Linked DNA regions of Homo sapiens: regions 1, 3, 4 and 5 are each linked to region 2. Evidence: fine-mapped expression QTL. A gene starts in region 2. Each other region holds a variant in brackets. All regions are shown on one strand. Distances are from middle to middle.

Region 1 (5,004 bases), 120 kb before region 2:
TTCATCACAAAAATAAAACCCCATGGGTCACTATCTGAATTAGCTGGGGGTTAAGGAGAAAGAAACAGGAGATAATAGTCTAGGTGTTTGGGGATAAAATACTCCTGTTTTGAAAATGTAAAAGCAATATTTCTAGAATGGCCTTGTTCTCTAGAACACTTTTGTTCAAATTCAGCCTAAGATAAGGTATGAATTTTACAGACTGATTTAAAGAAGATACGATTTAGGAAAATGAATGTAAATAAAAACAACACTAATGCCTCAACTTCGGCAATTAGTAAGAATTTATCAGCTTATAAATTCCATATTCAGTTATTTATTAAAATAGTCAAATGAATCCCTTCTGAATTTTCTATTAGCCCTAAGCTATGTCTTAGAGAATGATTCCAAACTTCAGTGAAATCATAGCACCCTATAGTTAGTACTATAATACCACAAATACACAGGCAGATCAGAAAGAATCATGAGCATGTTATAAATATTTACTGAATTTATTCTTTTTGATAGAAACGAATCTAATTATAGTAATATAAATACTCAAGTTTAAGTTTTTTATAGACCAGTCAGTCCAACTTTGTCATTTAGATAAAAAACAAAATAGAGAATTTGAACTGTGACTTAACACATACTTACTTTCCACTGGTCATCATGTTTTTAGGTAACCAAAAGAAAAACTTTAGAAATAAGATTCTCTCCTCATCACAATAAAAAGAGTCTCTAGAAGTATTAAAACCATGTTGGAGTTTAATATATTTTTGTTACTAAGTGCTCGTTGCTAACTGACCTTCAGAATGCAAAAATAACAAGGATTTAAATTCGGAGAATAAATTCAGGGATTATTAAACTAGGTTATACTCACTTTCAGAAAGCAATATGGTAAAAGAGACTAGAAGTTTTTTTTGTTTTGTTTTGTTTTGAGACATTGTCTCGCTCTGTCGCCCAGATTGGAGTGCGATGGCGCGATCTTGGCTCACTGCAAACCTCTGCCGCCCAGGTTCAAGCGATTCTCCCGCCTCAGTCTCCCAGGTAGCTGAGATTACAGGTGTGTGCCACCACACATGGCTAACTTTTTTTTTTTTTTTTTTTTTTTGTATTTTTAGTAGAGACGAGGTTTCACCATGTTGGCCAGGCTGGTCTCGAACTCCTGACCTCAGGTGATCCACCCGCTTTGGCCTCCCAAAGTGTTGGAATTACAGGCGTGAGCCACCGTGCCCGGCTGACTAGAAGTATTTTTTTAAGGAATGATGTCTAGTGAAAACCAACATAGGCCGGGCACGATGTTTCATGCCTATATTCCCAGCACTTTGGAAGGCCAAGGTGGGCAGATCGCTTGAGCTCTGGAGTTTTAGACCAGCCTAGAGAACATTAGGAAACCCTGACTCTACAAAAAGACTTAAAAAATTAGTCGGGCATGGTGGCATGCACCCGTGGTTTCAGCTACTCGGGAGGCTAAGGTGGGAGGATTGCTTGAGCCCGAGAGGTCAAGGCTGCAGTGAGCTGTGACCATGGCACTGCATTCCAGCCTGAGTGACACAGTAAGACCCTGTCTCAAAACAAAAAGAAAAAAGAAAAACAATATAAATACTGTGTCAAGATGATCTTGGTTACAGAATAATTCCAGTAAGACCAGGACACACACTGGAACTGCAGGTAGTATTTGTACACGTGACCTTGCTCTGACACTTAGGTTTATGGTAATACTGCTTGAGATGTATTTTTGTAAGAATCTAGCTCTTTATTTAATTGAATAAAATGCAAACGTTCTGACAGGAACTGCAAGCTACTAATAGTAGCCTCCTATCACGTAGCCATGCCCTTTTGTGGAAGTGCATTTTGTATGACTCACTGTGTAACTTTAGGTAAATGTCTTACCCTTTCTGTGTCTCTATCAAAAGAACAGGTAAGGATTAAATAATTCTAATTATCCTCCAATATGAGGAAAGTCCATTTGCTACATCAGAGATAATGAAATGATTTTGGTTGAAACACAGGTATGTAACTAACCGGGAAATGTCAATTTTGATTTCTTAACAGTCAAAAACCCTCAATGCTTGTGGTCAGAACTTGCTGTCTTTCCCCCCACCCCACCGAGACGGAGTCTCTGTCACCCAGGCTGGAGTGCGGTGGCGCAATCTCGGCTTGCTGCAACCTCCACCTCCCAGGTTCAAGCGATTCTCCTCCCTCAGCCTGCTGTGTAGCTGAGATTACAGGTGCATGCCACCATGCCTGGCTAATTTTTGTATTTTTAGTAGAGACAGGGTTTCACCATGTTGGTCAGGCTGGTCTCGAACTCCTGACCTCGGCCTCCCAAAGTGCTGGGATTACAGGCATGAGCCACCGCACCCGGCCAGAACTCGCTGTCTTAAAAAGAAAATATGTTCATTTAAACTTGAAACTTTCTCAAGAAAGCTCTGGGATGACAAATTATCACCTTTCAACACCAGTGTCTTTTTCCAGAGCAAAACTCTGTTGCACAGTTCTCCTAAGTTTACAAACACACGGCCTACCCCACTGCTCTTCAGAAGAAAGGCAGAAATGGAAGCACAGAGGGCCTTGCGCAAGCCCTGGGTTTCCAATCATCCCACAGAAACCAGAGGTTAGGAGGCGCCTCCAGAGACAA[T/C]GAATGGACAAACAGCATGGCGAGCACGTGAATTTATGCCTCCGCTGTTATCTCCCTCAGAGATTGGAACGCTACCCAAGCAAATAATGAAGAAGGGATTTTCCTCAGCAGCTGCTCAATAATCAATCTTTGAATCCAAACTCTCCACACAACCAAACATTTCATGAAAAAAGAATAAAAAATAGCATATCCAATCAAGGCCAGGAAATGCACCTTCCAACAAGTCGTTACTTGAGCCAGGCCTTGTGAGATTTTTGATTAGAAAAGCAGGTTTTAAATCAGAGATACTGTGTTCTCTTATGTGAAGGTAAGAGCTAGAAGACATGATTTTCACACACTGCATGACTTCAGAGAGGACAGAATTGAAAAAAAAACATCTCTGGACCACAACATGTCACCATGTACAGGGAACCAATGAGAAAACTCTTCTTTGGCAAATGCCCCATAAAAGGCTCTCAATTTTATTGTGTTCTAACAGTGTGTTTGTTTTTACAGCTGCCTGTTAATTATAACACATGGCATTTATACAGCATCTCTTAACAAATATACCTCATCCATCAGGCATGGTTTAGCAGTAAAAGAACCATGTTTCCAATATGTTAACAAGGTTTTAATGAGTAAAATGAGATTTAGCCAACACAAGTCTACAGATCCCTTCCCTGACTCTTGGTTCCACAGTAACAAAACATTAGTGAGACATTGACCATTTGTACCAAACCTTTTTTTTTGTAACATTTTCCTCCCACAACTTTAATGGAAAAACCACTAGGAGTTAAACCAGGGAACTCCAAGGAGAAAAATCACAGCCCCACTCCATGAGGGGCTTACAGTTTCGGTGAAGAGACAGTGCTGTATTGTGGTGAGGACGCTGATTAAAAAACCTGGTTTTGACTCCAGCTCTACCTCTTCATATCCTTGTGGCTTTGGCTAAGTAATTCTAAAATTGAAACTTATTTGTAAAATATAAACATGATACCTACCTTGCTAGCTTATTTTCAAGACTATATGAAATAATACATGTATACCTAGCAGAGTGCCTGGTATATAGCAGGTGCTCAGTAAATGTGAATGCTTTATCTCTTCCCCTTATAGAAAGCACAGGCAGATAGACGTACAAAGCAACATATCCATACTGCTACAGCAGTGAGGCAACAGAGCACATAGAAGTCATTCAGAGCAGCCAGGAAGGTCAGAAAGTTTCAGATCATTCCCATCTGAAATGACCCTGGAGGGGCCAGCTCCATGGAGCTAAGATTCCATAAGTTTTCCTGCACCTGCAACAATGTGGAAATACAACCTGGCTGCTCTTGTTGAGTCAAGAAAAGGACATCTCAGTAGTGTCTCTTTGTGGCTTCCTCATGGGAGGGGGAACAACTGCTTTTCGACATTCCCTGCACAGTCTCAAATGGCAGGACAAGGCAGTGACTGAATGGGAATGCATTAAAAAAAGATCTTATATAATTCTAATGTATTTAGAAAGATAAGATACCATTTTCCAACTCCAATTCCTTTCACAAATTAGAAAGGACAACTGCTTTGTTGTAGATGGCTAAAGTTTTTTTATTTTATTTATTTATTTTTTTAAGGGATTGCTGACTCTGGAATGTTCACTCACACTTAGAAAAAAAGAGAGTTCACAATTCTGACCAAGCATGGTGGCTCATGCCTGTAATCCCAGCACTTTGGGAGGCCAAGGTGGGTGGATCACTTGAGGTCAGGAGTTCGACAGCAGCCTGGCCAACACAGTGAAACCCCATCTCTACTAAAAATACAAAATGTTAGCTGGGTGCAGTGGTACGTGCCTGTAGTCCCAGCTAGTTGGGAGGCTGAGGCAGGAGAATTGCTTGAACCTGGGAGGCGGAGCCTGCAGTGAGCAGAGATTGTGCCGCTGCACTCTAGCCTCGGCGACAGCCGCTGCACTCCAGCCTGGGTGACAGAGCAAGACTCTGTCTCAAAAAAAAAAAAAAAAAAAAAAAAAATTCCATTTGGAATACTCTGAGTCTAATGTGAACAATTTAAAAATATTTCTTCTAAAATAGTTAACAAACAATGCTTAGAGCCTAATAAGCTGAGACACTGTCTCGGCGCTAAAGGGCTTCAAGTATTCTGAATGCTTGGGGTGCTCCCAAATCTTATAATAAGTTGGTTACTTCGTGACTACAAAACAGAAGCCTCCCACGGCAATTCTAGAATTACTTCTGGCCCTCCAGGGAATTTTTTTTTCCAATTGATAGCTAAAAATAATGATATGGTTACCTATAGTAACACTACTATTTTAAGCAAAAAGATGAAAGATAAGTGAGAATGGATGGAAAATAATCTTTTTTTTAGACCGTGACCTTAAGCAAGGCCAGTCCCTCTTTGTGGTTAAATAATGACCACTT
Region 2 (5,004 bases):
ATCCAAATTACAAAGTTTAATGACCCTGGAGAGCCATCTTTGCCTCCAGTGAACTCAGAACTGTATCTAAATATTCATTAAGGCTCTAGATAAATGTTTATTGAATTAAAAGGGGGAAAAGACACTGGAAACCTAGCCTCCAAAAACCCACTGCCTGCTCCCTTGCCCACTACAAGATTAAACTGGGTGCTCCTGTGATGAGAGTCAACCCATCCAAGACCCAGGGGGTCTGACCCTGGGCCATGAGGCGATGACAGCCAAGAGGTCTGGGCAGCGGCTCCAAAACGGAGCACCCACTGCCCTGGGAAATGTTGGGCGCTTGCTATGACACAAACCCTCCCCCAGGGAGCGGAACCGGATGGCCGGAAACCAAGTCAGTTCTGTATAGACCCTAAGGCCCCAATCCTATTCCACCACCCTCCTTCCTGTTTATAGATCCCGCTCCTGGAACTCCAACTACCAAAGAGAAAGCAGACGTTTTAGAAGTATGTAACACATGACGTAACTTGAAAAAGTTATGCTGCTTATTGGCGCGAGTTACAACTTGCCGGGCTCACACAGGAAAACAGGCTCACGTTAATTACTTTGCCTTTAATATGCCACGCCGTCCTTTCCTGGGGCCCCCGCAACGGTTGGGTAACTGAGAACCAGGTAGCCTCGGTGGTAGGACCCAAACTGTGTGGGCGGTGAGCAAAAGGCACGGAAGGAAGAGGGCCGATCGCTTCCGAAGCGGCAGCCGACTGGGATTCACTACAAGCCCGGCGGCTCTTTTCCCGCACAAGCGCAGGGAGAGGAAACTTGGGCACCTCACAGGCGGCACCGAGTTGCCCGATCGCTCGGCGATGTCGCCGAGGGGGCTCGCGGCACTGCGCCGATGCCCCTGGCTCGGCCGAGGGCGTGCCACCTTTGTCTGGGTTTCCCCACCAGGATGGGCTACGCCTCGATGCAAAGACGGCTTGAACTGGTTGGAGGCGCCGACGCCGCTGTCCGCGCTGGAGTTCCCAGCCCTGCGCGGGGCCCAGGAAGCCGACACAGCCGCCTGAAACCTCCCACTTACACTGCGCGCACGCGGCGCGCCTGCAAGTCCCAGCCCCGCGGTTACTTCCCTGGCGCGGCAGCCACAGGGTGGAGAGCCGGAGACCCCTCGCTCTCAGGCGCAGAGGCCCGGCGCACCCCTGCCCTCCTGGCACTGCATCGCCGGACCAGGCAGGGCCCCCGTGCCCTCTCCAGGGCCCGCTTCTTCCGCGCCCACGCGAGTCCCTTCTTCGGGAGACAACGGGCCGATGGACCCTCCCTCCCCCAGCAAGACAAGATCTCCGACTGTCCACCGCGTTAGGGAACGCACGACAGACACCCAGACAGCACCCACACCCCTGCCCGCCCCTCGGCCCTCACTCACCTGCCTGCACCGTGTCCGAGAGGTCGTGCCCGGGGGCTGCGGTACGGGGAAATTCCTTCAATTTCCTGGCGCTCAGGTTCAGCCCCCCGGAGTTGGCCGCCTCCTCAAGCGCGCGCTCCAGACCCCGGTTCAAGGGCAGGTTGAAGCCCCCGCTGCCACCGCCGCCACCACCCGCCCCGCCGGGGGCGCCGGTTCCTCCGTGGTGCTGATGGTGGTGGTGGTGGTGGTGGGGATGATGAAGTGGGTGCAGAGTAGCTACCGAAAGGGCCGGGACGAAAGGTTGGGGTTCGCTTCCCGGCGTCGCCATCTTCTCCCGGGCCCCCCCACCCCGCCCCGCCGCTCCTGCGGGGGGGTCACAGCGTTCCCCGCGAGGGGAAAACGGCAGCTCGGGCTGAGTGCCGCAGTGCTCCACCGAAAGGCGCTGGAAGGAGGGGAGGAGGGTGTGGGCAGGCGCGTAGAATGGGGGGCGGGCGGGGAGGCGGCCGTGGCAGCTCGGTCTTGAAGGTTTCCTGTCCCCGGGAAGCTAAGGACTGCGGCGGCGGCGGCGGCGGCGGCAGCGCGCATGTGTCTCCTCCCGCCCCTGCGCCCTCCCCCCGGCTGCTCTGCCCTCCTCCGCCGTCTGCTCTCTCCTCCTCCTTCCCCCACGCAGTCTGCCCCGCCTGAGCCTTCCTCCGCGCCTATTCTGCCGGCCGCCGCCGCCTTGCCGCGATCCGCCCCGCAATCGGGTACACGGCGGGGCTGGACGTCTGCTCCGGGGCAACTGAGGCGCCGAACCTCTCTCTGGGCGTCCTTTTGCCGCCCAGGAGGCTTTAGGGGACTGGAGGTTGCGGGGATAGGGGGGTGGTCTGAGAACACGGATAAAACGGCGGGAGGCAATGAATGGGATTTACAGTACAGTGAGGTTTGGGGCAGGAGAGGGTTCTCTCAATTCTGCGATTTATTCTGGCCGTTTAACCCAGAGATCCCCAAGAGGCAGTTTTCATTCACTATGGGGTCATCCCTGCAGATGCCCCCTGGCATTTGGGCGCTTACAATGAACCAGACGCTTGTTTAGGGAGTCTACGTAAGTTACCTCATTAATCCAGGGACCCCAGGAGTGCCAAAGTTGTTCCCCTGAGTCTACAGAGGAAGTTAATAAATGTATCTAAGGTCACCCCTGCAGTTAGAGGGGCGCTAGATTCGAGCTAGGGCCCTCAGAATCTAGGGTTGCCCTCCTTCACAGTGTACCCCTGGGCCAGACGCCAGCGCCAAGGGACGAATACGAGTGGGACAGAGTGTTTGCTGAGCGGCAGAAGAAAGCTACAGACATAGGAAAGAAAAACTCAAAATGAGGGCAGTGTTTATGGGGGACAGAAGACATTGTCGTAGGAGAAAGATGAGCTGGCTGCTCCCCGAAATTGGGTGGTGCCAGGAGAGGCTAGAAAGCCAGTGACCCCAAACAGCAAATCAGTCACAGCTCGAGTCTGAGCTGAAAGAACCATCGAAGTCTCCTTGTGCCCTTCTTCTTCCCGCTTTGGGGCATGGAAACGAACATGTCCGCTTGCAAGTGAATTCACATTCTGCCATCAGCCACCCAGTGGCACCCAGGCCAATGCTGGCACACCAGGGGCGACAGAGAACATCTGACACCCTAAGGGCAGACCAGCTGGACGATTAATAGAATACCATTCCTTTCCTGAAGTTAAAGCTTCATGTCCAACTTTCCAGGGCCTTTATTTTTGCTCTATTCTTAAGGCTTGATTGTCCCCTATGAGCGACTTGGCTTGGGGAAAATGAGTCGGGGGGTGGGTGCGGGGTTGTCGGGGTGTCAAGCACGAAAGTAATGCAACCCTTGGAGTAGGGGAGCTGGTTTTTTAAGTGGTAATACATAAGTTTGATGGCCTAGACAACAGGCTGGAACTGGTGACTTCATGGACTCGGCACTTAAGTATGGCATGATCTGTGTCACTTGAATTGACTGCACAGATAGTTGCCCTTAATTCCTGCGGGATTCTTGGCCCTGAGCAAAGCATTCTAATCTGCCCGGAGGAGACACGCGCCACCTGCTGGTATCCTCCCGCAAACCTCCCCTCTCACATGCCATTCGCCGCAGCCTTCCAGGCTTTTAAAAGTCCGGCTTCAAAATTCATAATAATAACGACAATAATAATAAATGAAAGTATACTTCCATCACAAAAAAGTAACCAAATTTCCACTTTCCTCCAGGGAGAGGAACAGAGAAAAACAAAATCCAGTGAAAAACAGAAACACAGAAAAAAATCCAATTAAAAGAATCTTCAGCTGAAACCAGGTGGTAGTCTGTGTGATCAGCAGTCAGGACATGATTTGGGACATCTTCTGGCTGACTGCAAATTTAGTTCAGACTAAGAGTCGTTGTGATGCATCATAGGAAGCATACATATTTTTTTAAAAGACCACTAATTCTTCTTTAAAGAAAATAATGGATTGCATATGAGCCCACGATTTGCTTTTTAACAAATGATCAGTCCCTCTGTTAGATTGACCTACTCATTGTGGTTTGTTTACCCATCTACAGATTACTAAACTGTAAATTCCATGAAATAGGGACCTATTCATCTTTGCAACTCTCTCCCCATGCCTCAGAATCGAGGGGAGTACTTTGTATATAATGAGTGCACAATTAATATTAGTAATCAATTAAGTATTGCATAATAGACCATGTGTTTAACAGGTTTGCCACCTGTTGATATGTCCTTTTTTATTTGTATAAATTTATGGGGTACTTGTTGATACATCTTTAAAGTTTCAAATGATTTCCCTGAATGAAGGAGTTTTTCTTAAAATGGGAGAGAGTACTTGACCCTTGAAAATGATCTTGATTATTTCTAAATATTAAAGAAACTCGACAAGCCATTTCCCCTTGCTGTCTTGCTTCTTCACTATTTCTTCAAGAAGATGGACATCTCTCTTTTGTTTAATACCCTGTTTACTTATTCTGAAAACAGCACCCTTTTGCTATTAAGGGCAGGAATCAGGCCCTTTTAAAAAAATCCGCTGCCTGGAAGATTCAACAAATAATGTTGTCTGGCTGAGATATTTGATGCAACTAGTAACATCAACATGAATTTCTCTGAAGATAAATAATATGTGTTTCAGGATTTTTCTATGTGAATCAGCTAGTTGATGAAAAAATGACCCTGATAAAATGAGGAAAAAAAAATAGGACAATGTCCTGAGTTTTTCATGAACCTGAATGTATTTAATTTCAAAAATTATATATAATTGTGAGGCTGTGCCTTCACTATTTTTTTTTCTGATGAAAAAAAAAAACCAAAACAATGGTAACAATAAATTGTAGTGTTTTTTAAGTATCCTTTTTCAAAAAATAACAAAAGGAGGTTACTAAAGTCAGTTACCAATTATTTTGATGTTGTTTATCTCTGAAATCAAAAACTCTGGGAACTACTGTACTTGCTGAGACCCTTGGTTTTCTTAAAAGGAAGTTAGTCATACATAAGTCTAGTCACCTGCTTTCAAGCATTTTCTTAAGCTGTGCTCACATCAACTAATCTTCTTTTCTTTTTTTTTTTTTTTTTTTTTTTTGAGATGGAGTCTCACTGTAACCTCCACCTCCCATGTTCAAG
Region 3 (5,004 bases), 160 kb before region 2:
AAAAATATTTATACCTAAATTTAACTGAATGAGAGGAGATTTCTTCTCTGTGGAAACATGAAGTTTTAAAATGTAGCTCTCAACTTCTCCTTGGAAGTTAAGAACCTGAACTGGACATGATGTTTAAGATATACAAACTCAAAGGCAGCAGTATCTTGGCTTTGAAAAAATATCACGAGCTTTAGATCCAGGCTACTGTGAATCAGAACTCTCACTAGCTGATTCATTCATTCCCTTCTGGTGCCTAAAATTGAACTGGACACATTCGGTGTCCTCAAAATGCTCACATTTCTTCTCTATGGTCTTAGACAATTTACTTAACCCAGTGACTGTCAACCTTACTTGAACACCACATAACATCCCATAAAAAGAAGTAAAACAAATGACCAGTGCTTAGACTCAATGCTACACCAAATAAATTAGCATTTCTGACTATGGGGCCTAAGTGACTATAGTTTTACAAAACGCCCAGGTGATTCTAATATAAAACCAGAGTTAAGAGCCACTAAAAAGCCTCTTATATCCTCAGTTTCTTCATTTCTCTAATGGGAAAAATAATACCTATAGTGCAAGATTACTGTAAAAAATTAAGGAAAATATCTGTAAACTGGTACAAGATACATGGTTATTTCAGAGACTAATGTAAACTGGTCCATTCATCCATTCTCTGGTGATAACTTAAAGATTAATTTTCAATAAGTATAAATTAGCACCTACAAATTCACTGCAAATGAAAGAGCAAAAATGACCCCAAAGAAGATAGAAATGGTTTTTAACTTCAAAGTGAAGGGAAGAGGAAAGATTCAGTAAGAGGACACAAGAGCAGGGGGAAAAGCAGAAGTTAAACTATCAGGTTAAAAACGGAGGTTAAAGCTGTCCCATCCAGCTCCAGGGGTGGGCCCAGAGAAACCTACAGACAAACGTCCACATCCTCCTTCATCCACCTTATGGGGCAGAACTTTGGGGACTTTGAGAACTCAAACTCCCAAGGACCTTCTACCCAGGTTGCCAATTTTAAAAAATCTGTTTGAAGAATAAGTTTTAGAGAAATGGGGAATTTAAAATGAGATAGAATGGGAATAAGATATTTGAAAGAATTTTAAAAAAAGGATAATTTTATATAAAGCAAGACAGTGAGCAAGGTAAAAAAAGGACAACCTTACCAAAAATAATAACTAAATGTATAAATAAAAGTCAAGTTACATTATGTTAGGTTGAGCTGGTAATAAGATAATGTTTATTTATAAAGGTTATTTACAAAGATAGCATTACATTAGAAAATGTATTCCAATCACAGGTCAAAGTTAAGAACAAAGAGAATGAAGATAAACATAAAAGTCAGATCTGGGAACCTAAACAAATATTTGTAAAGACTATTTCGGTACAGAAATTTTTCTGTTGCCCAGGGCATAGTAGAGACAAATTGCAAATAGGAAAAAATGACAACCTCCAAACATCTGACATGATCGACTGAACCGTGAGTATTGAAAACGATGGCTTTATTATTATTGTGGTACAGCATAACAGCTGCATGTGAATTCTTGGAATTTTTACTCATAGAAAAAATAACTATTGCAAGGTTATTTTATTTTTAGAAAGATTTCCACAATGATTATTTTCTGTGGAAATTTAAGGATTTTTAATCAAATGAAAGCAGCCTGAATGTAGATGCGGCAGAGATGATTCCAGAGTTAGGAACCCTGGTGCAGCTTCACCTCCACCTCAACCCCACAGTGTGACCCAGGCAGCTCACCTCACCTTTCTGGTTTTAGTCTGTTCGTCTATAAAGATAGTAATTCTACTGCTACATAAGAAGACTAATTGTTTCCCAGTTTTAAAAAAAAAAAGGCCTTTGGTTTCAGATATCATTCCTAAGGAAATACCAAACCACACATAAATCTTTCATTCTAGGCTTTATTTCCTTTAAACAACATTAGGCCCATAAATAGCTATACTTTCTGAAAAACAAAAATGCCTCCCCTCCATTAGAAAAAAAAAAACTTAAGTAAAGAAAATGTTTATCAAGAAAGTTTCCATTTAGCCCTCTTCAACTTCCAAAATTTACAACTGGATGGTATAAGGAGGGCCATTTGTTTAATAACTGTTGTTTTTTAATCCTATTTATTTTCCGTTTAAAAATTTAGAAATCTATGAAATATTAAAAATTCTTTTTATAACTACTCTGCCAAAGTATACATTGTCTTTCTCCATAAGGAAATTGTAGAAGCATTTTTGGTTGAATTTTAACCAGAAATCACAGCAAGTGTCTTAAACATATATTTTCCAGGTATTACATGTAACATACTTAGATGAAAAGATAAATATTATCAGAAAACGTATCTTTCCATTGTGTTTGCATTGTGGCTATACCCTGTACCTCACTACTCTTCCCTATAAATCACATTCTCTGTTTCACTTAACTCGACTGCAATCACTTTGTATTCTGAAGTAAAATGTTTAAAATTTGAATATTTCAGAGACTAGGATGAAATTAGACTAGAATGGAGATTACGATATAGGTGGTGTGCAGATCTAAATAATTATGTTTTATTGTAATCTCTTAGGCTATATAAGATTCAAAATTAAAAGATACCCACATGAACTCTAGCTGAGTGTCCTC[G/A]ATTTTTTATTTACACATTTGATTCTCAGGCCAAGTTACTATCCTTGAATGTCAAAAAGATGAACCTATACTCAAGAAGGCATCAAAAGTCAAAATATGCCAATAATTTGGAAAAAAGAAGGCAAATGATTTATCTTCATTTTCAGAAATTTCTCCACGTTAACATTATTTTCAATGCAATACTCTAGGATCAGCCATGGTACATTTTAATTACCTTAGAAATCTCACACAGTAAGCATAAATAGTAAAATATCAAACTCTAAAACCATTTAGTTCAGATGCAGGAACAAGCGGAGATAAATCCAAATGTGCAAACCCCAAATATTTGTAAACAAGCAAACAAACCAAAAAACCCAAGCAGAAAAGGGGAGAAAAGAAAGTATTATAATGCCTTCCCCAAATCCAGAATAGTCAAGTTAATTAAACTGGAGTTTGACAAACTGCTAGAGAACAATCCACGTGCACTTTTCTGGACTTCACTTTCCAGGCTTACACATTATTTCTCATACCAAGCATGCAGGTGAATATACTCTATCTTCAGCTGCACAGAGATGAATGTTCAGTATACGCATTGGCTTATTAATGAGAACATTGGAGAATAGGTACAAAGCCACCTACCATTGTCACTGTCTCCTTCAGATGGAACACTGTAGCTAGAGCTGTCCCATGTCTGTGCCTGTGTAAGTGTGTTGAAGGAGATAGGAGGAAGAATGAGGGCTGGGTCTGCAGGGGAGCCAGAGAGCCAGTCCGCGTACAGTTGCACAAGGACCAGGAAAAACCAAAGGGGCAGCAGCATTTCACAAATGGCATAGGGTTTGCATGGAAATGAAGAGTGGATTTCATTTATATGGGGTTTAATTTCAAATGCACAATATAGGAGAAGAATGAAAGATGGTGCATGGAATAAAAAGAATGATAAAAACTGAGTGTTAGTACCCATCAATCATACACTTTGCATGCAGTTCATATTTGTTAATCTTAACAGTTCTGCAAGCCCACAGACTTAGAGTACTAATGAATCAGGTCAGAGGAAAGAAAGAGTACCCATAGGTTAGGTAGATAAAAAGCAAAAGACCTGCCAGATACGTTCCTCAAAGACTTTCTAAAAAACTAACAAAATATGATTCACACACAAAAAAATTGGTGACATAGAATAAAACTTAATATGCGTAAATATATCTATTATTTAGAAATAAAACTATTATAGAATCATCATTTACCATTAGTGATTTTTTTTCTCCAAAGCAATGTCAAATTTCTTTTTAAAGACACCTGTAGGTCTATTGGCATGCTTTATAGATAGCTGAATCTAGCTAATTCTTTTCTCAATCCTGGACATACCTCTAAATACTGTTTTCAATATTGCTCAGTTAAAAAACAAAAAACAAAAAATGTTGGAGACTAGTACAGTCTATTTAACAACAAATCCAATTAATCAACAGAGATCAATCAATTTCAAGAACTTCTGAGTTGGTCACTTATGAAATGATAACAACTCTTATTTTTGCACTAAATATCCATATGGCAATTTCATATTTAGGAAATATCTATATTATTTTTTATTCAATCATAAGGCAGGGCCGGTAAAATAAATGGATATAGTTCTAGATATAAATATTTGGGTGTGTGCAGTTGTCTTTGTTCGGGAGGAAAACACAGAAAGAAATGAAAGAAACTGCCAGCCTACTTTAAGAATCTAAGTTCTTATTTGAACTTGCTAATTTAAGCAGTCTGTTTTTATTTATAACACAGAAATCACATAAATCCACATACTTTCAAAATAAAAATTAATTGGCTTTAAGCATTCTAAAGCTACTCGATCAAAAGTGGTTTCTTTTAAAACTATATGCTTTCCAGTTAAGATTACTGTATATATTACTTTCCAGAAAATGTGAAAAATACACTTAAGCATATATACTATTTTAAAATTATTAAATAAAATGAAATAAATTTCCATACATAATGCAAGTTTTTAAAGTTCCCACATGTCACTTGATGATCCTGAAGGTAAACAGCATTATTTACAGCAACCAAACTCCATAGAGCTTTCAACAACAAGAACAATTTCCACATTGGTTAGTCAGCATTATAGAAAGGCTGGAAGCTTGGAAAGGAAATTAACTTTGTTTTCTGCTATTCAAAATAAAAGCTCCATTTATTTTTCACTGCTACAAAGAATGTGAAATGGTTTAACAGCCCCAGTACAATGTAAACCCTAACTGTAATAAGTTGAGTTTGGACTCTATAAAAAGAATAAAAAAGTCACCAAAATAATTCTACAATTGCAAGTTATACATTCAAAAGAATATTATTCTCTGAAGATCCATTCAACTTTTGATTTGCTCAATTATGCCATGCTTTTAAACTGTGTAAAACTGACTGTG
Region 4 (5,004 bases), 140 kb before region 2:
TTCATTCAACAAATATTCATAGAGCTCCACACTTTCCTGTTTATCTTGATAAAAAGATGTTTTTAATCTCTCAGTGACAAATGCTAAATCAATCAATGGCAGCAGCCAAAGAAAAAGAATGAGGTGTGATCCCTGAACCCCACAATGTCATCTAAATGGGAAGTAAGATCACCTGATCATAGATGGTAAAATCTTTGCCAAACCAAGTGAAAATAGGAAGCTATGTAAGATAATTTGGAACACTTATCACTCTAAAAAATAAATTTCTTGGAGGTGTACTTAGGAAAGGAGGCTGTAATATAAGACAAGGAAAGGCCAAAGGCAAGATGTGTGCATTTCATTCTGTTGAATATAATCTTTTCTGTATTCCCTTCTCTTTCTACCCACCTCTCATCTTAAAAATTTAGCAAAATTCCAAAGATATGCATCTAATTAAAAGGCACAGAATAAATCCTTGGGCTCCTTTTAGAATGATATTAGCATCCTACTTATGCTTAAGTGACAACAAAAGGATAATGAAGTTCTTTATGTAATGTTTTATTAATGAGTTTAATTAGCCTTAGAAGAGAGATAAAGCAGAGTCTGTTTAATTTAACAGAAAATATACTTAGGGTGAGTAATTTCTGAAACAATGGTCCATTTGCGAGGACTTAGGAGTTGAAGAGGATGAATTAAAATGCAACTAAAGCAATGTGTTTAGTATCCCCTCTCTCCCACTGAAGCACGGTAAACTATTCATGTGCCTTCCTATGGGTTATTTTCTTTTATTGACACTGGCCTTCTCTGCCTACTAACTCTTCTTCTTTTCAAAATGCTCTATATTAGAAGGATTTTTAAAGATAAAGAATCCCACTTTTTAATATACTGCTATATAGAGTATTTTGTGAAAAATAAATTCAAATACCTTAGCTACCTATTAAAATTCAACGACTTGAGGAGAATTGGAGAAAGGTTTTTTTCCTGGAGTCATACATAGAAAAAAATGTGAGTTTCTTTGATGGGGTGACTGGCCTATTAACTGCAATTTCACAGTATTATAATGTTAACTTAGTAACTACAGAAAGTAACTTCCCTCAAAAAAAGAAGAGCACCTGATACTTTTCCTACCACTCCTTTCTAGATCCCTGAGGCCAAGAAGCTCCATTTAATGATACATTAGTGTTAGATTTTGGGGACTCTAATAGACTACATGTGAGATAATAAATCAGTTATCAAAGCATGATTTATAACCACTATAGGAAGTTCTAATGTGTGAGGCCTGTTAGCTTGCAAGTAACCAAACTTGTATCCAATTAACTGAACAGAACAGAACAGAACACAATCTAAGAGTCTGAGGAAAACAAACATTGTTATAAAAACTATAGCTACTCATAAATGCATTTCCTGTGGATCAACTATTAAAATAAAATGTACAGTTGATTCCTTAACATTTACGCATATGTATAACAATGTTTTTCTAAATTACTCTATTACTGAAAAATAAGCGTATGTATAAAAGTGCTTCACGGGCACTTGCGTACTACTTAGCCATTTTGTAATATTTATTGAGCACTCAATAATATTTTAGATAATGTGTAGGAGAGGAGAAGATACAGACTCCACTCTTGAGGCATTTACAAAATATTAAAGATATTAAAGATGCAGAATAAGTAACAACAGCTAATATTTATATAACACTTCGAGGATTTCAAATCACATGAATATACAAATCACTTTTACGAATATCACATGAATATACAAATGAATCGATGCCCTTTAACAGAAAGGAGTTCAATGAACACTGGTAGATATGTCTAGAAGTACAGAAGGAAAAGAATCTGATCACTAACTTTACCTCGGTGGCAGATAATCGCTTATCTCCATTATCACTTCCAACTCCCGAATCAGAATCCTTCTTGCTGAGATAGATGCCATCAATATTGAATTCATTTAAAAAAGATTAAAATCACAAAGTTCACACCAAGAAACATCAATTTATATTCTAATAATAATTTTGCTACGCAAATTTTTATTATTACCATAAGGCAACAAATCAGTCTAGTATTAAAGAATATTAAGACATGGACCTAATGAAAATCAGACAGTAGCACAGTCTAAACACAGGATAAGATAAAATTCTTTGTGTTCGGGGTTTCATGGATTTATGCTCTAATCAAGTGGCTTGCTCTTAGATGTCAAGGTGTTTCTTAAAAATAGTTACCAATGTTCTTATTTTACTGCATCTAGCATATAAAAAATTAATAAACCACATAACTGCTTTTACCCCTTATGTTATGAAATGTGGTTACTTTCAATAATTCTGTAAATTTTTATCCAGGGATTAAGTACATAAAACAGTGTACATATTTTAAGCATTATATAAAAGTAACATTAGAGTAGTCCAAAATTTTAAATTTACTTATGTAGCAAAAAGTGAAGGAAAAGATTTCTGCAGTGAAGACTTCTTAAAAAGAACCTGCATTTCTATAACTGTGTTCAGTGTGAGAATGTTGTTTTTTGGAAGCTCAAGGCTTGATTTATGCCACAAGAAGCTCTAGGATGTGTGAAAGGGTTCTAACTTTTCCATTTGAAACAGGAAGTGGCGACAAAAC[T/C]ACACATACTGCATTTTTAAAAGACCAAAAATAAAGCCTTCATTTTTTTCTTAACATTGTTCTGGAGGCATATTCAACATTAATAATTGCTAAAAAGGCATGTCTGGGCTCAATATAGTTATTTTGATAAGTAAAAAATATTCACATTTGTATTCTAGATCTTATTTATAAGTATGCACATATTTACTCAGGAAGAACTGATTATTGATTAGGAGACAGATGATATTTGAGATATACCAAAATATTCTCAATAGCAGCAGTTTTTTCTTTCATATCCCAATAGTTTCTCAACTTCTTGTTTTAAATACAAATTAGGTGATTAAACCAAATTGTTCTGTTTTGCTTTGTTTTCTGCAGATACCATGGTGACTTAAAACAAACAGATTTTGAAGTCAGCTACCTGGAGGGCCTTGGCCTAGGCAAATTTTAAACTGGGGCTTTGAATGAGGGCATGACTCACCCATCTTCCACGTGCTGGTGTAAATGTGGCCTCTCCATGGTGTGGAGATAAAGGGAGTCAGCTGTCTTAATCTGGCATGCTTGTATGCTCAGATACTTAAATATGTGAACTTTGCCCTTTGTGCAAATCTACAAAGAAATTAATAGCAATCATATTCATTTTTCAATGACAAAACAAAATGTAAGTATCAAATCCTTACTCTGTATATTTCAATTTTCCCAGTTTCATTTTAAGTAACACCCTACCAATGTACACTAAATCCGTCCTTTCCAAAACATGTAAGAATTTTGGGAATCATTCCCTCCAAATTCTACTTTGAATAGAAAATCATGCTTAAGCAATTTCCCATTTTTTCTTGCATTAAACTATAAAACTCTAACAAAAATGTATTCAAGTATATATAGTATAAAAAATATAAACTCAGATGACCAGCCTGGTGAAATTCCAGTTACAAAAGATGAGAAAAGCACAATTATTTTCGAGCTGATAGAAAGCAATTCAGAGCCTAAAAATAATTGTAGATTTAAGAAGCTGTTAAATTATTTAAAAAGAAAATAAACTTCAAAATATTTACATGGTTAAGCATCTGAAAGCATAGCACTTCATTTTTCTCTCATGCAGTTTAACATTTGAGCTGGAGACTTGTCTCTAAATAATCAATAACCATGTTTTAAGGTGTTTAAATTCCATTTTCCAGCTAACATTCAAATAAGGAATATATGGTTGGGAGCAGTGGCTCACGCCTGTAATACCAGTATTTTGGGAGGCCAAGGCGGGCAGATCCCTGGGGGTCAGGAATTAGAGAGCAGCCTGGCCAACATGGTGAAATCTCGTCTCTACTAAAAATACAAAAACTATCCAGGTGTGGTGGCAGGCGCCTGTAGTCCCAGCTACTCAGGAGGCTGAGGCAGGAGAATCACTTGATCCTGGGAGGCAGAGGCTGCAGTAAGCCAAGATCACACCTCTGCACTCCAGCCTGGGCGACAGAGCGAGACTCTGTCTCAAAAAAAAAAAAAAAAAAAAAAAATCAATATACTCCATGAAACAAATTCAAATAAAATGATAAATAATAAGACATTTAATTCTGGAGTTGGAGTGATTAGCATAGTGAGCCAAGTGCTGGTGAATGGATTTGATGCAATGGAAGACAATTTATTGTTTCTCACATTCACTCAAGGGTTCACTGTGACTGTTTATAATCAAGTTTTATTCAGTATTATTCTCTTCAGCAGAGAATCAGAAAACTGGCCTTTGGAGAGTTGCTTAAGCATGATTGATAGCATTGGGAATCAGAAAACAATACCCCAAAATGAAGGTCTCAGAAGCAAAAGTTTTTCTCTGACCTCTCCTGCCCTCCTGCCCCTCGGTCCCATTCTCCCAAGGAAGGGAGCCTTACAAATTTGAATCTTCCCCAAAGCTGGTCATAGAAACCAAAACCCCTTTAAAACCTCAAAATATTACTGGAACTTTCCCTCGGCCTTTCTGTGTAAAAACTGGCCATAAAGAAATGATCTGACTTCTCTTGTTTGACAGTAGGCCATAAGACCCCCCATCGCAAAGAGGGTCCTGCCCCACGCCCAGAAGGAAGGAATGATCCTCAGAGAGCCCAAGAAGAATCCAGACAAACAGGCCCTGCTGGGTTTCCTCACTCAGTCTATTAACATGAGATCATACTCTTTTTGTCCAATCATATTTCTACATGGCTGTCCATACTTTGTAAGCATAAAAATGGACAATTTCCCCTGTATCTTTGGGTCTTCACTCTGGAGGCTTCCACGTACATGTTAATAAATTTTGATGCCTTTTCTCCAATTAATCTGCCGCTTGCCAGTGATTAGTGATTTTCAGCAAACTTTCAGAGGGTGAAGGGGAAATTTTCCCTTGGCTCCTATAACAGCACATCCCATGGGGCATTGGCTTTGCTGCAAGACCCCTCACCTGTGCTGGAGGAGA
Region 5 (5,004 bases), 150 kb before region 2:
AACTTTAAAAAACATTATATTGGCCACATCACATTCTGTCTTATCAAAGAGTATAATATACTTAAAGTATCCCCAAATTGTTAGATAATTTCTTTTTCCAAATATTTGCTATTAAAAATACCTACCCCTCATTCTCTACCCCAAATTCCCCAAATTGTTCACGTCTTCTTGTCTCTTAGGATAAGTTCTTAGATTTCACTCCGAAGTTTTATATGTTTCTAGACTTGGTTACATACTAAGTTACTTCTAGAATGGTTTTGCCAATTTACTTCTCCACCGGCAGTTTATGTATTATTTCAAATCCTCATAACCCTAAAAGGTAGGTACTTGTCACCCCCTCTTATAGATGAAGAAATGGGATGCAGAGAAGTCATACAACTTACCCAAGTTAACTGATGGTGCAGCTATGTTTAAAAAGTTTCTAGCTAATTCAAAGTCTGTTCTTTCTACAAGCCACACTACTTCCTGATTCGTTATAATGAATACATGTACACGGGTGCACATGCCTACATGTACTAACATACATGTATGAACAACCATACACATGCATGGATACACGTAAACACACATACAGGCTCTCCTGTCCTGTTTCCTGCCCTTTCACTAACTGCCCCGGCTTGGGATGTAGAATTCAACTCTTTGAACATACCTTGATTAGGTGCCTATGCCACGAGCCAAACATAAGGGAGAATTAACAACATGAATAATCATGTTTAAACACCATCATTGCCTCCCTCTAAATATAAATTAAAATCTCAGCTCCTTAACAACATCCAAAGCCATCGCCTGCATCATTCTACACTGTCTCTGGTGATTCGCAGTCCTGGCTGCACATCAGAAGCACTGGCTGACTCCAGTCCCCAAAGGAAGTGCCTGGTATCTGTTCTGAAAAAGTTCTACAAGTGATACTGAAGCACACTAGGATGGAGAGCCTCTGTTCTGCCTGAGATTTTCCCAACCTGGCTCCATTCATTCTGACCTTCATGCCTTTACCTAAGCCTTTCATTCAATCCAGAATTTCTCTTTTTCTTGAAATTGGCAGTCATTAAAGGTCCAGGCCATTATCCTATCCTTCAGGAAGACCAGTCCACCCATCTCCCCTTTTCCTGGGGTTGGGCACTTGCTCGAGTCTATCCTTTTTACCTCCACTTGAAGCACTTGAATCAATTACAGTTATTTATTTATTTATTTGTTTTATTATTATTTTTTTGAGACACAGTTTCACTCTGTCACCCAGGCTGGAGTGTGGTGGCACGATCTCGGCTCGCTGCAACCTCTGTCTCCTGGGCTCAAGCGATTCTCCTGCCTCAGCCTCCTGAGTAGCTGGGATTACAGGCGCATGGCACTATGCCCAGCTAATTTTTGTATTATTAGTACAGACAGGGTTTCACCATGTTGGCCAGGCTGGTCTCGAACTCCTGGCCTCAAGTGATCTGCCTGCCTTGGCCTTCCAAAGTGCTGGGATCACAGGTGTGAGCCACCGCGCCTGGCCCAGTTACACTTATAACTTCTCAAGGCAATCTCTATCTATTCTAAATTCTCAGAAAGCAAGAGCTGTGTCTTGTCCATCTTTACATCCCCCAAGGTGCACACTGCAGATCTTCCCATACTCCAAGCACTCAATTAATGTCTGCAGAATTGAAATGTTTTTCAAATCAATTGCAAAAGACTTCCAGCTGTACTAAACTGATCCGCCACTATTCTTTCAGGGCCAGACATCATAGGTGGTATATTCTCATCAGCATTCTGGGATACACTAACTACGCTTTTCATAAATTTGCAGAACCCAGCTAGGATTGCTGCGTGTGATTCCCGTGTTCATCATATTATAAGACCACATCAGTTTACCAAGTCCTCTAGTTCTCTAGAGATCATGTAGTTATTACCCGATACATGATACCTGCTATTGTTTAGCTGAAAAATATTTTGTCCATGGGAATTCCATTACCATTAGTTAAGAAATCGAAAAATATTATCCACATATCCACTGAATGTAGTGCCTATTATCGATCAAGGCAAATTCAGATTTTAAAATTATCCTGTATCCCAAATCTTTAGAAATATATTCTTCAGTTAACATATATTTGGCACTACCCCATATAAATACA[G/A]TACTACTTGATATACCAATTCTTTCCTTTTTGGAAAACATTTTCTTTATATTTTTTATAAATCAGGGGTTTAAACTTTAAGCAATATAAAACATGCACTTTTACCATATTTTTGTTTTCTAAGAATTTTACCAAAAACTCCCATATGAACTTCATGAGGGGTGAATGAACTCAATAAAGGGTGGTGAAAGGGGAAATTGATCTCACTCCCTCCAGAAGTTTGACTCTTTTACTTTTGCATCTTGGGAAAACAGGCAATAAACATGACTTTTCTTTGTTAGTAGCTGGACTGGGCCAAAATCGTCTGTGTAGGTATTTTAGGAATTTAGACAATGTACTCCATACATTAGTATGCATTATTTACACATGAAACCTGGACCAAGGAGACATACACACCCATTGGGATCTTGCAGCAAATCTACTGCTTCTCTCAGCTGCTCGATCATTGCTATATCCATGTCCTGATCTTTGGATGAACTTATTCTGTAACGTGAAACCAAGCATAAGAATGAAAACGATCAATACAACATGAATATCATCTAATTTCTTAAAAAGCAAACTTACAAAAATCCATCTAACATATGAAAATGATTTCGACAGATTCAGTGTTATGGTGAAAATGTGTTTGTACCTTGTGGGGTGGGATGGCAGAGCACGGTGGGAAGAGCCCGAGTAGGGGAAGCCCAGCTCTGCTGTAAAGCAGCTCACATAAGATTTTCATGCCTGTGCACCCCTAACTGCCCCTGTGCACAGTCAGGCAATGGCCTAGATGAGAGGCTTTCACCGTTGTGCTTTACTGAGTTCTAGGGGGCTGCATGGAGGGGATCACCTGGCTGAGTCTGTACTACTTCTGGGCCTTCCAACTCCCGTTCAACCAGTTTTATTACTTTCATGCATATAGGGTTTCAGTGTGGGACAGTGGTTCTCAGTCCAAACTCTAGATGCAGCAAAATCATCTGTGGAGCTTAAAAAACATGCCAGGCCCTATATGTCCAAGTGGGTCTGACTAGGAGTTCAGCATTTTATAAAGCTCTACAGATAATCCTTTACAGCCAGGGTTGAAAGCACTAGGTATGAGATTGAGAATGGAGTTTCCAAACCGTTATATAGTTTAAAAACAAGTGCCTCTTTCCCTATGATTCTCTGATTGTTTAATCAAGCTAGGCCTCCGTGGCTCTCAGCAGCATATCCAGTGAGTAGCTGGTAATACAGACCGTGACCAGAGAGGAACTTTCCAACGTTTTTAAAGGGCAAGAGAGATTTGATCACAGCAAGCCCTTCCCACCATAGAATGTAAGCCAATGACTTTCTGTAAGGAGAAAAGTTTTAACAATGGGATAAATCCTCACTAAGAAGAAAAACCCTGCAAGGTATGATGGAGAGTCAACACCTGCCTCCCAGATTATAGAAATAAAAATCCTGGGAACAAAAACTATACTCTATGTCACACAGTCCAAACTCAATTCCCCTGGACATGATTCATTGTCTGATGGGATCACACACCCCCTCCCCTGTAAATCTTGCTAAATAAATATTTATACACAATAGAGTAGAAGGATTATCTGTCTGGTACAAGATTCCTTGGGTTCAAATGCTGGCCCTCTGTGACCTTGCGGCAAGATAATCAATCTCTCTGTGCCTCAGTTTCGTCATCTGTGAAATGCGGGACAAGAACAGAACTTATCTGTTAGGAGTGTTGTAAAGATGAAATGAGTTATGGCCTGTCAAGTATTTAGGACAATGCCTGGCACATGATGTTGAATAAATGGTAGCTCTGGCAGTTAGAAGTCTTGGGACCAGAAGTCTACGGTGTTCTCAGATCTTGAAGGGGATGACTTGGGGTAAAGAAGGAGATCAGCGCTACAGATCACTTCAGGCCCAGCTGTTGGCTTCTTCAGGCAATTGTATGGATGGTAGAACCTCCAATCTAGAAATTCTAGCTAATTCTCTGAAATCACATTACTACCCGCAACCTCAAAACAAATAAGACTCAAGGCCAAGTAAGAGGTTTGTACTGCCCAATACCACGACAAAAAGCATCAGACAGAGAAAAACTGGCAACTTCTTATCAATATTGTCTGTAAGAATATCAGCTTGCCCACAGAAAAGCAGGTCAAAATTCTATCACAACAGAACTGCCAGACTGCTTGCAAAGTGGATTTGAGTGATGATGGCTTGTAACCAAGGCCTCGGCACTCACATGCCCTCAGTTTGCCAGTGCACATCCTCTTCTATCCGTAACAGCTCTTCACAGTCTTCTGCCCTTGCCTGTGGACAAAACACACAGGGTTCCTGAAAACCATTGGCTACTCAGTAGTCAGGAGCCAAAACCTGCCCAGCCCATGTTTATAACAGCGTTATTCACAATAGCCAAAAGCTGGAAACAAGCCAAACAGCCATCTATGGAGGGACAGATAAACAAATCTGGTATGTACATGCACTAGAATATTACTCAGCCTTAGAAAGGGGGAAATTCTCATGCATGCCATACACACAGATAAACCTGGAGGACATTATGCTACGTGCAATAAGCCAGTCACAAAAATACAAATACTGTACTGATTACACTTATATGAGGTGTCTACAGTAATCAAATTCATCCAGACAGAAAGCAGAATGCTTGCTGCCAGGGGCTGCCGGGAAGGAACGAGGGAGTTGTTATTTAAAGGGTACACAGGGTCAGTTTTGCAAGTGAGAAGAGTTCTGGAGATAGGCTGCACAACGTAAATGTAGTTAAAACACTCTGAACTACATGTACATTTAAAAAATGGCTAAGGTGTACATTTTGTAAGTATTTTCCCATAATTAAACATTTTTAAATTTAAAAAAATGTGGCCCAAGACCACAGCATCTGTTAACTTATCATCAGAAATTTAAAGCTTTACTGGATTTCCTA

Direction of the effects. Positions count from the first base shown, and alleles are read on the strand shown. Sizes are in standard deviations (SD) of each study's normalised expression. Not every link is listed here.
As copies of T replace C in region 1, the expression in liver of the gene that starts at base 1,933 in region 2 goes down (small effect, 0.38 SD a copy in GTEx).

Evidence for each region.
Region 1: its variant is fine-mapped to the expression of LRCH1 in liver (GTEx, PIP above 0.99).
Region 3: its variant is fine-mapped to the expression of LRCH1 in whole blood (INTERVAL, PIP above 0.99).
Region 4: its variant is fine-mapped to the expression of LRCH1 in whole blood (INTERVAL, PIP above 0.99). The same link has a PIP of 0.9 or more in blood mononuclear cells.
Region 5: its variant is fine-mapped to the expression of LRCH1 in whole blood (INTERVAL, PIP 0.95).

The regions. Positions count from the first base shown.
Region 1 is chr13:46,673,342-46,678,345 of GRCh38, reverse strand. All of the region lies in intron 3 of LRCH1 (leucine rich repeats and calponin homology domain containing 1), which reads right to left. Among named protein-coding and RNA genes, the nearest start is that of ESD, 120 kb to the left of the region's middle. The variant T/C (reference allele first, on the strand shown) is at 2,621.
Region 2 is chr13:46,550,099-46,555,102 of GRCh38, reverse strand. LRCH1 (leucine rich repeats and calponin homology domain containing 1) reads right to left here and starts at 1,933. Exons shown (of 20, transcript NM_001164211.2): 1 at 1,400-1,933. The coding sequence starts at 1,706. RefSeq lists enhancers at 800-1,119, 776-1,476 and silencers at 1,680-1,739, 1,800-1,989.
Region 3 is chr13:46,713,899-46,718,902 of GRCh38, reverse strand. LRCH1 (leucine rich repeats and calponin homology domain containing 1) reads right to left here. Exons shown (of 20, transcript NM_001164211.2): 16 at 3,239-3,343. Among named protein-coding and RNA genes, the nearest start is that of ESD, 81 kb to the left of the region's middle. The variant G/A (reference allele first, on the strand shown) is at 2,621.
Region 4 is chr13:46,686,027-46,691,030 of GRCh38, reverse strand. It overlaps LRCH1 (leucine rich repeats and calponin homology domain containing 1), which reads right to left. Exons shown (of 20, transcript NM_001164211.2): 5 at 4,990-5,004; 6 at 3,052-3,179; 7 at 1,835-1,898. Among named protein-coding and RNA genes, the nearest start is that of ESD, 110 kb to the left of the region's middle. The variant T/C (reference allele first, on the strand shown) is at 2,592.
Region 5 is chr13:46,698,708-46,703,711 of GRCh38, reverse strand. It overlaps LRCH1 (leucine rich repeats and calponin homology domain containing 1), which reads right to left. Exons shown (of 20, transcript NM_001164211.2): 10 at 4,309-4,376; 11 at 2,505-2,591. Among named protein-coding and RNA genes, the nearest start is that of ESD, 96 kb to the left of the region's middle. The variant G/A (reference allele first, on the strand shown) is at 2,109.